Linked DNA regions of Homo sapiens: region 1 is linked to region 2. Evidence: fine-mapped expression QTL. Tissue or cell type: whole blood. Region 2 holds a variant in brackets; the other region holds the start of a gene. All regions are shown on one strand. Distances are between the middles of the regions.

Region 1 (8,108 bases), 120 kb after region 2:
AAAGAAATATTCACTATGTTGACTCATTAAAAATGCTAAGGGTTAAAATGTATGGAACCTCTTAAAATCATAAGCACACATTTTAATAGTCTAATATTAATTAGGAAAGATACTACATGTTTAATATTGTATGTTGATAGAAAAGTTTGCTTTGGGGTCTGGGATTTGACTTCTGTATTTGTACCTCTTGAAATTTCAGATCACATCATAGCATTTTAGTTTGTTCTAAACACTAGCTAGTGCATTACAAAGGTTTTTAACTCATGAAGAGTATTTTATGTCCAAGAATTGCATGAGTCATTAAAATGAAAGTCTTTACAATACTTAATCTACTATAAGCCAGTAAATAAATTTAAGGTGCAGGAGTGAGAAATTAATATATGGCTATAAGATTTTCTCAAAGAAATCTGAAAGACTAGAAATTTCAATATAGTTTTTCTGCTGGTTACAGTCTGCCCTTAATATCTCAATTTCTGCCTAAAAATTGATTTCAGGTTACACATTCTTATTTCACAAATTTGCTAGAAGAATATGATTTAACAATAGATGTTAATATCTTTTGGTAATAAAAGTGTTTGTAAATGTTTGGCCTTCTTGTTATTAGTAATATAGTAATCCCCCATCCCCACAGTTTCGCTTTCCTCAGTTTCAGTTACCTGTGGTCAACAATGGTCTGAAAATATTAAATGGAAAATTCCAGAAAAATGAATTGGTAAATTTTAAATTGCACGCTGTTCTGGGTAGCCCGACTGGTAGGTGAATCATCCCTTTGCCCAGTATATCTGTCTATACTCTCTGCCTGTCACTTAGTAGCCTTCCCAGTTATCAGATCCACTGTCACAGTGCTTGTGTTCAAGGAATCTTATTTTACTTACTAATGGCTCCAAGTGCAAGCATAATGATGCTAGCAATTCGAATATGCCAAGGAGAAGCCATAAAGTGCTTTCCTTAAATGAAAAGGTGAAGTTCTCAACTTAATTAAAAAAAATCATATGCTGAGGTTGCTAAGATCTACAGTAAAAATGAATCTTCCATCCACGAAATTGTTATAATTGTTCTAATTTATTATTGTTGTTAACCTCTTACTGTACCTAACTTAAACCCTGAACCTTATCAAAGGTATGTATATATAGGAAAAAACATTATATATAGATGGTTTGGTTACTATCCTCACTTTCAGGCATTTACTGGGAGTCTTGGAATGTATCCTTCCTGGATAAGAGGGGAAATACTCTACAACATTTTTGCTTTTTTTTGGGAGGGTCTTGCTCTGTCACCCAAGCTGGAGTGCAGTGGTGTGATCACAGCTCACTGCAGTCTCAACCTCCTGGGCTCAAACGATCCTCCTGCCTAAGCCTCTTGAGTAGCTGGGACCATAGGTGTGCACTACCACACCTTTCTAATGTTTTTGATTGTTAGTAGTCTTTGCATTTTTAAGTTATATGTTTGTTATTGAGTGTTACAGAATATTGTGACGTTAACGTACTATAAAGATGGGAGGATATCCAAATTTTGTCACATGCTTGGTGAGAAAAATCAAAGAACATATTGCTTGGTGTTACCCTCGTCTTTCAGAGGGGGTCTATACATTATTACACATTTAATTATACATTTATTATAATTATACATTTCAATATCAAAAGTCAAGTTACATTGGTACATACAAGTAATCTTTACCACATTAATTGTAAATTGACTTATTTATTTACTTAGAGACAGTGTCTTCCTCTGTTGTCCAGGCTGGAGTGCAGCTGATGCTATCATGGCTCACTGCAGCCTCGACTTCCTTGGCTCCAGTGATCCACGCACCTCAGCTTCCCAAGTAGCAGGGACCACAGGCCTGCGCCACCCCACCAAGCCCAGCTAATTTTTGTATTTTTGATAGAGATGGAAGGTCTCACCATATTGCCCAGGTTGGTCTTGAACTCCTGAGTTCAAGCAATCCACCCACCTCGGCTTCCCAAAGTGCTGGGATTATAGGTGCAAGCCACTTTGACTGGTCAAACTTTTGTTTGTTTTTAAGAGACACCCAGCCTGGAGTGCACCAGTGCCATCATAGCGCACTGCAGCCTTGAACTCCTTGGTTCAAGCGATCCTCCTGCCTCAGCCTCCTGAGTAGCTGGGATTACAGGTGCACCACCACCATACCTGGCTAATTTTTAATTTTTTTTTTTTTTTTTTTTAAAGAGATGAGGTCTTGTTATGTTGACCATGCTGGTTTTGAACTCCTGGCCTCAAGTGATCCTCGTAAACTAACTTTGAAACTTATTATAGCAGGCTTGTTGTGATCAGGTGAAGTTATATCAGGCCCAAACTTTGTATGTTTGTCTGACTCCAGTTTTGAATTGCATGAAATGACTTAATCTTTCCATTATTCTGCTTAAAAAACAATTCAAATTTAGGAATGAGACTCCACAATGAAGCCCCACAGCAACGAAAGTGGTCAGCTTGTTTCTAAATGGAAATCCCCAACTGCCACACCACATCAATCATCTGACATATAATCTCACTTCCACTAAGCTGGAATCTACTTTAAACGTCAGGTCTCTGGATGAAGAATTTTAGTTTAGTGGGTTATGTAGCAGAAATGCCTAAATCCAGAGCACTATTTTAGTGTTGGCAGAAATAGCTTCTCTTCAAATAGCAGGGAAGAAAGAACAAGGATTTTAAGTTCAAAGTTTTTGTCTAAGCACATTTTCTAATGTTTCTACCCGTTATCTCATTAAAAAGAATAAAGAAATAGGGGTGGGGATAGAACCACATTCATCTACTTTCATAGAAGGTGCATACTGGAGTCCTGCAGATACAATTTATTTGATCTATATTTTAAAAATTAGGGAAATGCCACATTAGAAAACAGTTCCAGGTTTTTGGTTCTCTTAAGAAACTGGAACCTCTGGGCACAGTGTGTGTGCCTATCTTCTTTTGTGGAAAAGTAGGCTGGAGCTGAGAATTGGCTGCTCTCTTTACACAGGCTCTACAGTTTGCCATTCCCTACCACTCCTGAATGTTTTACACCCATATTTATTTTGTTGCTTCACCCTGCAGTCGGGAGACTCCTGCAGTTTATGAAATTGATACAACAGGGCTTTTTTTTTTTTTTTTTTTTTTGGTAGGGGGTGCAAATCTCTTTGATTTGAGGGGAACGCAGTGGTCGCTTTTGCTTCCAAACAGCCTTAAATCTGCCCGTTTTTCAACGATCTGACCTTACTTTTTCAGGGTGGCCAAAAGCACAAAATTATGAATCAAAGAATGGTCCCCAATTACCACGAGCCAGCTGTGTGACCTTGGGCGACTCCGTTAAGTTCTTTTAGCCAAGAGTGATGAATGGTCTGCAAAACGACCTTAATACCTGTTCTGAATACCCCCACATGGCTGTGGTACAGCAGGCGTGAGATGTTTAAAGTACTCCTAAGTAATTTATAAACTGCAAAACGCTTCCCAGCACAAGCGTCCGCTACAGAGCGCGACGACACCGAGCCGGTTTAGAAGTCCAGTTACTGGAATCCACTCCAGTTCCGTCCTGCTCCCACCTCCTACGCTCAGGGTGGGCGAGCGGAAGGAGACTCTCAAGGGAGAAGGCCTGGAAAACTGGCTAAGAAACGAAGCGAGAAGTTCCTCAGCAGGGGTAAAGTTGTTGGCGGCATTTTTAAGCCCCTAGAGTGGCACAGCGACTCCCGGTCGAGATGACGGACCCCGGTGCGTGACCAGCGCGGGAGCCAGTCCCGGGCCACCTCCCTGCTTGAAGTCGGGCCTGGCCAGTACCCTCCCGGCGCAACCCCGGACCCGGGACCCCCGACTTTGCCCTAGTCCCCAACCCCCACAATCACCTCCCTTGGTCCCCCTCCACGTGACAAGAGCCGGAACCGTCACTTCCGGCGGCGCGGGCAGCGCGCCTGCGCGGGTCGCCCGGCCTCAGTGAGCGGTTGGCAGCAGCGCCCCCCCCCCCCCCCCGCCAACGGCCACGAGTGGCGGGCGGCGCGGGTTCGGCCGGGGCGGCGGCGGCGCGACGGGCTGCGGTCCTGCGGGTTTGTGGCCTGAGACGTCTAGCCCACTCCCTGGAGGGGCCGGCCGCCCAGCCTCTTTCGCTCTCTTCCTCTACCCCGGCTCGCGCTCCAGGCGCTTAGTGAGGCGGCGGGACGCCCGGGGCACTGGCGGAGGCGGCGGCGTCGCCCCTGGATTCGGACCCGCCCCCTCGCGCCCCGCCCCGTCCCCGCCCTCCCCACCGCCCTCTGCGGGAGCCGGGCAGCTGCAGCGGAGCCGCGGAGCGGGCGGCGGGGCCCAGGCTGTGCGCTTGGGGAGCGCGGAATGTGAGGCTTGGCGGGCCGCAGCACGCTCGGACGGGCCAGGGGCGGCGACCCCTCGCGGACGCCCGGCTGCGCGCCGGGCCGGGGACTTGCCCTTGCACGCTCCCTGCGCCCTCCAGCTCGCCGGCGGGACCATGAAGAAGTTCTCTCGGATGCCCAAGTCGGAGGGCGGCAGCGGCGGCGGAGCGGCGGGTGGCGGGGCTGGCGGGGCCGGGGCCGGGGCCGGCTGCGGCTCCGGCGGCTCGTCCGTGGGGGTCCGGGTGTTCGCGGTCGGCCGCCACCAGGTCACCCTGGAAGAGTCGCTGGCCGAAGGTACGGGCGCCCGGGGAGGCTCGGACAGGCAGGTGAGGGAGGGTTGGGGTGTGGCGGCGGCTTCTCCGGGTCCTCGCCCTCCGGACTGACTCTTATACCCCATTCTTCCTCTGCTGCCGGGCCAGCGGGGGCTCCTAAAGAGTGGCTCGGGCTTTCTCTCTTAAGCTGGCTTTTCTTGCCGCTGGCTGCCCCGGCCGGTGCACAGTTCTCTCATGCCTAGTTTAAATCATTTTCTGTGCTTTTTGACGCGAGAAAATAGGTAGTAGACGGGCTAGGAAGTGGGTTGGTGTTACGATTGGGCCAGTGACTCATTAGAGGGTCAGATCGAACAGGGTTGAAGCTCCGTTCTGCCAGCTGTGGCTCAGACGGGTGTCATGCGTTGGCCTTTTCATCTAAGCCTCCACCCGCGCTGCAGGGCATAGGACCCTGCAGCCCCTGGTGTCAAGCTGGGCTTTGCTGCAGCTCAGTCATCTGTTGAAAAACAATGTATTTGTGTGCATGTGTGCGTGTTGGAGGTGATCCTTTGCTCTAAATTCAGTTAGTAGGTTGCACTGAGGAGCAGGTAAACTTGGAGCCCATTTATCTTTGTTATTTAGAATCTTCTCTGTTGGACAAGGTGCTATTCATGCCCTCCCAGTATGTCTCTTTGATAGTAGTTTAAAAGGTGATATAAAAGCAGGTTAACTTTCACTTAACGAGGTTTTGTGGTCGGTCCTTCATGATCTGGAACAGGTTATGACGGCAGGTAGAAGTCTACTTACAAAAAAAGTTTACTCCATTTTAAAAGAAGAACTTAGAATTTAGTTTTGTATTTCTGGCATAATTGCCTTGTAGAAAATACTTGCCCTGTGTGCTGCATGCTTCATTGGCCTTTGAGTTTTTAGTTGCAAAATGATACTACAAAATAAACACTTTAAAAGAAATACTTTTTGTTGATAAATGGCCCTTTTAAGTTCTATGGTTAAGATAAAAAAAATCGAAGAGTGGATTCAGTTCTCCGAGCGTTAGACGTTGATGTGGTTTGAAAACAGTAGACTGAGATTCCGCTTGTATTTTTTGAAATGCTATACACAACAGTAAATTAGCACAAGGGAAAAAACCTGAAGATTTTTGTATAAAATATTTGAAAGAGAAAGAAATCGTGAATTATTCAAGTGTACATATCATTGTTTCGTGAACCATTGCTCAGAATAATGATCTTAGCCGAAACTTGGAGAGGTGGGAGAAGGAGGATCCTTAGTTTTTCAGAAGAATGAATATGTGGTGAGTGGTCTTTATAAAAGATTTACTATACTATAAAGTTTTCTAGCTCTTTATTACACATGAATTTCAATTATTGGTTTAGATTGTGTTGTAGGTTTTAAAAGCACATGGCTCTTCACTCAAATGCCATATTCTGTCTTTGAATTGTTTTAGTAACTAATTGAAATGTAGCTTGAGTAGTGTTACACTCACTCATTCCACTAAATCCCAGATGGGTCTTTTATTTAATAGAAAAAAAATACTGACATTTCACAAATTAGATTTTGAATTTGTAACTTGTATTACTCACTACCCTAAGCATATCTTATCACTACCCTAAGCAAGCCATTTTCAATAAAAAAATAATTTTGGAAAGTAATAAAGATGAATTTCAAAAGGAGAGTTCGTTCAACCACAACGAAGAATAAAAGTTTATTTCAAGCGCTAATGTCACTGTTAGAGTGTTCCACTGACTTTTGCCATAAATGTATCATTTCTCTTGAAAAGTCAATAATCAAATGCTAGGAGGAAGCAAGGACTGAAGAAATCCTTTTAGAAGATGAAACTTCTCCATCCTACACCCCAGCTTTAATTTCCTAGAAGGGAGGCCAAGGCCTAGGTTTTCTTTCCTTGTGTATTTTTTCTGTCTCCATCACCCACACAACTGGAATTGTCTATGTATAATCAGTTTAATTTTGATCCTGGCCGGTCTTATTTCAGATGCTTAATATCCCCTCTCCCTTCCTAATAAATAGTGCCACAATTTAGACAAGATGTTTAAGCACAAGTCTAGTTCGCATTTAAGCGTGATTAATCAATAATTGATGGGTCTGCCTGATCATAAGATTGGGTCATGTACTTGTGAAAATGCATTCAAGTTTAGAGTACTTGATTTGGGGAGAGGGATACCACTGAGTAGGCAAAGCGGTAGAAGCTAAGATAGACCAAAGCACAGACTTGGTAGATTTTGCATTTTTTGTTTTGGCCCAAAGTTGTTTAAACAGAGCCAGGAAGACTCAGTAGATACTGTGCCCTGAAGTGTTTTTGCCATGCTCCTGCAAACATTGGTAGTTTACTCATAATGACCTCTGCAGTGTCTTTTTAATAAATCCGTCCGTCTCTCTGTTGTTATTTTTATATAATTAGTTATGTTGCAAAAAGTCACCGTGAAAACTGGATTAGCAAACACTGAACCACTGCTCCTACTATGGTGTTAGATTCCTGAAAGCTGCTGTTCACAACATTTTTGTCAACTGATCAAGATACAACCTTGTTTTATGTCTGTTGCAGTTTAAATACACCTTATTTAATATATTTGGTTGATTTATTAACATTGAAATCATGGCCAACAGCTCTGTAAATCATGCCTCAATGAAGATTATCTCACACTTGTATTTTCTCTGTAGTCTTTGCTCCTTGAACACTAGACAGCACTTTAGCACTACGCTTAGGGACTGTTTTCAACAGTGAAATCACCAATAGCAAGCACAAAAATGAGAAAAACATGGCACTAAATAGACCATGAAAAGGACACTTGTTTACACTATGTAAGCTGAAACTAGAATGTGCACGTCAGTAGACTCACATTTTTCACCATTGTGCACATGTCTGCAATGACAGTGGAAGTGCTATGAGTAATGATTTTGGGGATACAAATAAATGTTAGTGAGTAGATGAATTTGTAAATATAGTATCCTCAACTAATGAGGAGCAACCTTTGTTATAGGTAGATATGTATATGCACATATTATGTCTATAATTTGAAAAGCAGATTCTCAGGGGTAGGTTGTATGTTATAACTAAACTGTTAAAGTTTTCTCTCTGAAACATTATATACTTTGTATCATAATGTCTTTGTAGTCAAGCACATAAGTGTTTGAAAATAGAACTTGCACCTTTTTAGTTCCTCCTCAAAGTTTAAAGGACTGATAACATAGTGAGGCAGTTCATGTTTTTTTTCTCAAAAACATGTTTAGGAGTCTGTACTAAGCAGATCCCAGCTTTGGTCTGTAGAAATGAGGGAGAGCGGTATGTTGGTTTTAGCTTCAAACAGTGACAAATTGTCAGGCTCATATAATTAATTCAATGTAACCTTCCAAGTTTTTACTAAAACCTGGGGTTGGCTTGTTGACCACATGCATCACCATAACAAGCCTTTGGTGCTAGTCTGAGGAATTTAATACTGATTGATAATAAGTTGGTTTTTGAGTAGGGGACATTGTTTTCCCTAAATGTCCTTGGTACAAA
Region 2 (8,108 bases):
TTAGTTTCAATAATTATTTTTATAATTTTTTCAGTGAAAATCCACAGACAAGAACCAAACTCATGGTTCTCAAATTATACTCTTATACTGATTATCAGTAGTTTTAGGTGTTTGGGTTCTGAAATTCAATGCTAGGACTGGGAGTAGAGGATTTTATTGCTAATATATCAGGATTAGGTTTTGCTGCACATTTAAAAAAAAAAAAAAAGCAAACTACCAAAGCCTAAAGCAAGCTGGAATTTGGGGGTTTCTTTTCTCAGATAAAAGGAGTTGGAAGAGAAACTATCTAGCTATGGCCACTCCATAATATCATCTGGGACCCCCAGGCTCTTTTCTCTATTATCTTAACACATGGCTTTTATTATTAAGGTCATCTCTGGGCTGCTGAAGCTCCAGTTATCACACCTGCATTGCAAGCCAAAATAAGAAGGAGATGCAGAAAGTATCACCCCCAGCTGAGTAAAATTGTGTTAAGTAGCCCTTCTAAACGTTTTATCTAGGAATTATGCTTTCATATCTTTGACAGAGATTAGTCACGTGGCCACAGTTAGCCACAGGGGTGACTAGGAAATGTAGTTTTTGTCTTGAGAGCTATTCTGCTGGGATAAGAATCAAGGTTAGGCAACTAGCTATCTTTTCCACACAAAATATTACAGAAAAAAGATGTTAATGGATAGAATGTTCTCAATTACACATTTTTCTCCATACCTTTTACATATTCCTTTGGTTTTAAGAATATTATCATTCTCCTATAATAGTATACAATAGTATATGATTCAAAACAAAATTATAAACTGGATTTTTTTAACAATCTATTTATATTTCATTTTATCCTACAAAGAGCAACATGATTTTCAGTTGTTTTATCACATGAATATATTCAAGCCCCATTAATCCAAATCAAATAAAATTATGGAAGTCTAGAAATCCATTCTGTATGGAAGCAAGCTAACAGCAGCGTTCCATCTTCTAACAGCCTTAGCCCAGGAGCATTTACCAGTAAGCATATTGATTTGAGCGTCAGCATAAAATAAGGCATCCCTGAATTTTTACCAACAAAGAAAAGTGTCCTTGCACTGTGGTCACAGCATGTGTATCTTTCTACATCTGCCCTCAAATTCCCAACAACATGATTGTGCTCTGAGTGGAAGCCTCTTGGTGTTCTGTGTTGCCTTCATCCATATAAGTATATGTAGGTCTTTCTGTTCATTTAGAGTTTGCCTTTTGTGTGTGTGACAGGGTCTTACTCTGTCATCTAGGCTAGATAGAGTGCACCAGTGTGATTGTAGCTCACTGCAGACTTGACTTCGTGGGCTAAAGAGATCTTCCTGCCTCAGCCTCAGCCCCTGACCCCTGACCCCCAGGAATTACTGGTGCATACCACTATGCCCAGCTAATTTTTTATTCTTTATTTTTTAGAGATGGGGTCTGATTATGTTTCCCAGGCTGGTCTCAAACTCCTGGGCTCAAGTGATCCTTCCACCCCACTGTCCCAAGTGTTAGAGCACATCATGGGTGTCAGCTACTGCACCCAGAGAGAATCTGCCTTAAGACTTTAAAGAATTCTGAGCAATAGTGTCTGAGGGGCTCATTCCCTAACCTAACGAGGATTACAAACCAGCTGGGTTATGAAAGAGCAGCAGCCATCCAAAACTGTCCTGATTGGGGAAGTGAACTCTGCATGCCACAAAGCAGGAATGGCAGCCAAATGAGAAACATATGCTCTGGATTCTGATGCAAAGTTTTTATTTCTTTAAAAACAACTGCATTAAAGTGACATAAACTTAAATTTAATCCAATTTGGACCTTACTGGAAAACAGTATGAATTTTGGGTGAAATATTTTGGAGAAATTTGAAATATCTACTATGTTATGTGACCTTAGACAAAGAACTTAACCACACCAAGTTATTGTTATTATATGAATAATAACAGTAATGTCAAATAGCAATAATAATGCCAAAAGAACTGACAGTCTTTTTGAAGATTACTGTGTCAAGAGTGTAAGTTACGTTAGAAAGATACACATGCTGGCCGAGCGCGGTGGCTCACGCCTGTTATCTCGGCACTCTGGAAGGCTGAGGTGGATGGATCACCTGGGGCCAGGAGTTCAAGACCAGCCTGGGCAACATAGTGAAACCCTGTCTCTACTAAAAATACAAAAATTAGCTGGGCATATTGGTGGGCGCCTGTAATCCCAGCTACTTGGGAGGCTGAGTCACGAGAATTGCTGGAACCCAGGAGGCGGAGGTTGCAGTGAGCCAAGATCATGCCACTGCACTCCAGCCTGGGTGACAGAGAAAGATTCCAAAAAAAAAAAAAGAAAGAAAGAAAAGAAAAGAAAGACGGGAAGGAAGGAAGGAACGGAGGGAGGGAGGGAGGGAGGGAAAGATACACGTCCTGTGGCCACAGTACAAGGACATTTTTCTTGGTTGGGAAAAATTCAGGGGTGCCTTATTTTATGCTGATGTTCAAATCAATATTCTAAGTTATAATAAGGCTGTTACATTAGACTCTTAACACAGTAATCTTCAAAAAGTAATGCTATATTATTAAATAAGTGTACATAAAATAACTTACTGGTCATTCTCTTCTTAGTCCAAGGATTTTGTCACTAACCTGCTAAAATTCTTTTAGCAAGACTTTTAATTAGAGGTCAAAAATTTACTCACTCTAATGAGGGACTTGAATTTTACAATCTGTAATAACTGACTTGACGTTGGGCCTTATTATCTCGGATTCTTTCATCTTCCTTGGGTTGTTCCTTAATTCTGGGCATTTTGCTGCCCATTACCTCTCTCTTCAAAGGTTGGCAAAGGGACATAGCAACAATTCTGGTAAACAGAGCAAATGGAAATGGAAATGAGCCAGAGGTGTGCTCAGTAGAATGTCATGTCATGTATTGATCAAATGGCACAGAGAACCCAGGCTCTGGAGTCAAGACTGGGAAGCTATTGTCATAAACTATTCTACATTGGCCCGTAACTTGAGCCTTAACAAATCATACAACCTCAGAGACTTCATCTATAAATTGAAAGTGTTAATATCATATACCTTTTAAGATTTTTTGGCCAGATGCAGTGGTTCATGCCTGTAATTCCAGCACTTCGGGAGGATCACTTGAGCTCAGGAGTTAGAGACCAGTCTGGGCAACATAGTGGGACCCTGTTTCTACTAAAAATAAAAAAAAAAAACTAGGCAAGTGTGGTGGGGCATGCATGTAGTCCGAGCTACTCAGGAGGCTGAAGCAGGAGGATCTCTTGAGCCTGGAAAATCAAGGCTGCAGTGAGCCATGATCAGGTTACTGCACTCCAGCCTGGGTGACAAAGGGAGACCCTGTCTCAAAAAAACAAGCAAAAAAATATTTGTCAGGATTAAATGATGTTACCTATAAAGTATTGTGGGCATTGTGTTAATTGTTACCTATTACTATTAACCAACACCATTATGAGATATCTCTATATGTTAGCAACAGAAATAAATTTATCCATTTATTTCAAACAGTATTTGATTCAATGCAATTCTAGTACAATAGAATACTCCTAGAATGATAATAATATGACTAAGTTTGTTTTTAGGTCATTTCAATAAGAAAATTTAGACTTCGTTATCTATTTGTCAATGCTTATTTAATCCATAGTTCATTCTGAGTCCCTCGCCACTTTTACATTGTCCTTTTCGAGTGTCTTTCACAGCCCTGTGGCTTTAATGCGTTGCTGTCTTCCCAATTCACAGTTCAGTTTCATCAGCACTCCTGTT[T/C]CCTGTTTTGTCACTGTCTAGGCTGCCTGTTTTGCACCTCGAACTCCTTCCTCTTCCTCTTCAAAGGATATCGTCAACATTTCCAGTAGGGATGGGCAATGAATGCCACAAACGTTTCTTGCTGCAGCTCTTCCTTTTCTTTCTTTTTCTTTTTTTAACCTCCTTTGAACCTTCATAAGCTTCCTGTAATGACTGTGTCTCTGTTTCAACTATTTCAGTATTTCTGTGGCTTTTGATTTTGATCTGGATTCACGTCTTCCAGCCAAAACCATCTCAAACAAGTAGTTTGAGGTTTTTGCTGGAAGGTAATTTGAATTTGTTTACATGGCCACCAACTCCCAATTTTAGATGTCCTGAGATTTCTGGAGTAGAGGATTGGCCTTACCAGATTACCTTTCTCTTATTAGCACTATTATTAGCAAAGATGGGCTCTTTCGTTTGTGAGCTAATCATACTTCTTATAATTCTAAATAACTACTTCTAAATCAGGAGAATTAGAAAAGTCTTTCATTTCAGCAGGGTTGAAAAAAGGTTAATTAAAGTCATCCACAGACATAGATATAGCAACATGATTTGATATACATACATCAATAAGAATAGTCATGCACACACATACACAGAAACACACAATTATTCCTTTACAATCTTCTGGCATCTTTTCTGCAAGGAAGCCACAAACACAAACTGGATATGAACAAAATAACTCAGCAGATGACCAATGACCTCTTCCTCCTTCTCATCCTCCTCCTTCTCCTCCTCCTTTTTCTTGTTTTGCCATCATTGTTTAGGTGAAGCGCAAAACAAGTCCCAAATATTTCTGGGCTACTCTCAAATTATTGGGCTCTGTGGCGTGTGCATTTGAATGTTCATTCAATAAATATTCACTGAGAACCTACTATGTCCCAGGTCCTCACAATACAGCTGTGTACAAAACAGACCAGATCCCTGCCATCTGGAACCTCGTACTTGGGTGGGTGATCAGTTTCCAGAATCAGACAGTCTGCTCATTTGAGAAAACTCCTGTGTGGTTCAAGATTCCAGAGGAGAACACTGAGACAGGAGCAGACTGGGTTTATCATATGCCCCATCTCGTGGTTTCCTAACAGGCCAAATGCAATACAGAGAGGGGTATTGCTCACTCTTCCTTCCTGTTTCTGTCACTCAGACAGGAGCTAGATAGTTCCTTTCCTACCAAGCTAAGACTTTTGCTCTCATCAAGTGAGAAGGTCCCTCTTACTTTACAATATTTCTGACCTGAACCCTGGCAACCATAAATCTACTTTTTTTTTTTTTTTTTTTTTTGAGATGAAATCTTGCTCTTGTACCCCAGGCTAGAGTGCAATGGCACCATCTCGGCTCACTGCAACCTCCGCCTCCTGGGTTCAAGTGATTATCCTGCCTCAGCCTCCCGAGTAGCTGGGATTACAGGTGCCTGCCACCATGCCCAGCTAATTCCTGTATTTTTAGTAGAGACGTGGTTTCACCATGTTGGCCAGGCTGGTCTCGAACTCCTGACCTCAGGTGATCTGCCCGCCTTGGCCTCCCAGAGTGCTGGGATTACAGGCGTGAGCCACTGCACCTGGCCCACAAATCTACTTCTATCTCTCACCTTGCCTTGACTTTCACCACAAGACAGAATAGTTCCCCTTAGAGACTTTCATTTGCTCTGTGGTATCACTCTTTAGACTGCCTGAGATACATACTGGAAAATGCCACCTCTTAAAAGGCACCACTAAGTTCTTAATTGAATCCACACTTTAGTCTTTTATCCTTTCGATTTCTATGGTAAAGAACATAGGCCCTGTATTTGCTACTCATATCTCCCATTCATTTGTGTGTGATTATGTAGCTTTTTTAGCTTACACACAGCTATAAAGCATTTTCCAAGTCTTTTTTATATTATCTAGTTTGCATGAAATAAGGATGTAGGAGTATGTTTGGCTTTTGGCTATAGATAGTTGGAAGTATTTCTAAAGATCCACTCTCTTCTGAGCTCTCTTACTGTTCTTGTTTTCAACTAACAGAAATTGGAAAATAAAGATTGTGTGGGTATAAAATGAATGCTTGCAATGTTTGTCATTTTTGGAACTCTATTTCTGTGGCTCTTGACTTTTTTTAAGATGGCTTCACCTAAAAGTTGCTAAGGCCAGGCCAGAGCTCTTCTTATAAACAAATGACAGGGGACATGATAGCCCATAATGAATTCAATCTGGGCTATCTGTGGCGTTGTGTGTGGATAAAAAGTAAAAGCTAATTTTGAGTACAAAGAAAATGAATAAAGCCTCTTGCCACTAAGATAGTTAAGAGAAGACTGTCAGAAGGCAACATCATTCTATGCAGCTGGACCTATGCCCTTCCACAGATGGGAACAATGCCATATGGTTAGGGAGCTTGGCTGTTACCCAAGTGGCTCCTATTCAGTTCTCCATTTGAGCAAGAGTTGAGAGGAGATGGAGAATAGTATTTGGGAGACTTCCTGGGTTCAAGTCCTGCCTCTACCACTTATTTGCTATGTGCTTTCTTAGTAACCTGAAGCAATGAATAACAGTATTAGCCTCATAGGGTTGTTGTAAGGTTTAATTGAGATAGTGCACATTATGCATGCTGCCTACCTGGCACATAGTAATAGGTGGGAGGTATTATTACTGTGATGATGATGATGGGTGTCCAGGGGGAGACCAGTCTGAATGTACCTGGTAGACTCAGTAGGTTACTGGAAGTCAGGAGTCACAAATGTGAACCAGGCAGCAAGCTTTAGAAGGTGATTGACAGGGCAAATTGGCAGGGATTGTTAAGAAAGATACAGAGAATGGTGGTAAAACCAGGAGGAATAAGCATGCCTTTTTCTCTTATTGGAGCAAAGAGGACATTACCTGGTCTGTATCCAACTAGACAAGGGCCTGAACCTTAGAGAAGATGTTGAACCCCACTAGCATTACTTAAGGTCAAACAAGGCAAAAGCGTTTTGGTTTTCTGTTTATTTGTCTGGTTTGGGATATTCCTGGGAAGGAATATTATGGATTTTGCACTTCTAATATCTGACTTCTGTGTAATGGAAGAAAAAAATAGCACTCCAGTAAGCCTTTATAATGCCATACACACATAAAGTGAAACAAGAAGACCCTGTGAAGGATGATAGGAATGACAGATCTCGTCCTACTAAAGGAATAAATTTCCTTCCAAACATATTACAGTTGTATAAGCTATAAAATATATTGCTATAAAATGACTCACCTATTTGAAAATCCTACTGCATAGAGTTTCCACAGTTAGAAAACTGGTATGCGAAAATGTGAAAGTTGGTAAGAATCAAGAAATAGTTTTTTAGTACCTATTGTGTGTAAGGTATTATTACATAATCACAGAATTATACTATTATTTTGCTTTTTGCATAGATTTGCATTACCTAGTCAATATTTAACTGATTTATTTAACCTTTGTAAAACAAATTCAGAATCTCATACTGAGACTTAGGAAGTATATACAGTAGTTCCCCCCTTATCCGTGGTTTTGCTTTCCATAATTTCAGCTACCTGCAGTCAACCACGATCTGAAGATGTTTAAGGGAAAATTTTGGAAATTAACAACTCATAAGTTTTAAATTGTGCACCATTCTGAGTAGTGTGATGAAATCTCACAGCATTCCGCTCAGTCCCTTCCAAAGGTGAATCATCTTTTGGTCCAGTTATCTGCACTGTAGATGCAACCATCTAGATTATCAGATTGAAAAAACATAGTATAGACAGTCTAGGGTTCAGTACTATGCACAGTTTCAGGCATCTACTAAGTCTTGGAACGTATCCTTCAAGGATAAGGGGGAACTATTCTATTCATAAATTCATAGAATTTTAAAGCTGGAAGAACTCCGAAGGGAATGAAAATCAGTGTCCTAGGCTTTCCTTAAAATGCTAGGTAATGTCCTAAGGAGCTTTTGAAATTTTAAATTATTTTTAAAACACTTTATAAAAGAAATTTTTTAGTCAAATATATCAGTGCTCACTAAATCCCCACCTATTATAAGAATTTACTCATCCTAGCAATGTCAACTTTAGGAAGCATAAGAATAGAAACTGAGATAATATAAATGACTTATTCAAGGGGAATGGCATTAATCAGTCAACAAAGTGAGATAATCAGTAGAGCATCTGAAAAAATAAGACCTCTCATATGACCTGTTTGTTTATTTCTGTTCCCAGATGACAAATATTTTTTGAATTCTGCCCAGCTCCTCTTGGGGTAGACAAATATTAAAACAGAAAAAAGTGGCAAGGTGCTTTTGTTCAGTGTGGGCTCATGGGGAAAAGTCCTATAATATTTTCAGCTGGTCACTATGAAGGCAGCCAGCAGTGA

Evidence for each region. PIP is the estimated chance that this variant, and not a neighbour inherited with it, causes the effect.
Region 1: BMP2K starts here. The variant in region 2 is fine-mapped to the expression of BMP2K in whole blood (TOPMed, PIP above 0.99). The same link has a PIP of 0.9 or more in blood mononuclear cells.

What each region holds. Positions count from the first base shown.
Region 1 is chr4:78,772,103-78,780,210 of GRCh38, forward strand. BMP2K (BMP2 inducible kinase) reads left to right here and starts at 4,248. Exons shown (of 16, transcript NM_198892.2): 1 at 4,248-4,619. The coding sequence starts at 4,442. It overlaps BMP2K-DT (BMP2K divergent transcript), which reads right to left and starts at 3,868. Exons shown (of 1, transcript NR_186689.1): 1 at 1,553-3,868. RefSeq lists enhancers at 3,484-4,114, 4,747-5,377 and silencers at 3,581-3,830, 3,921-4,590, 4,952-5,152.
Region 2 is chr4:78,653,339-78,661,446 of GRCh38, forward strand. The region is part of intron 1 of LINC01094 (long intergenic non-protein coding RNA 1094); the gene reads left to right. Among named protein-coding and RNA genes, the nearest start is that of LINC01094, 11 kb to the left of the region's middle. The variant T/C (reference allele first, on the strand shown) is at 3,759.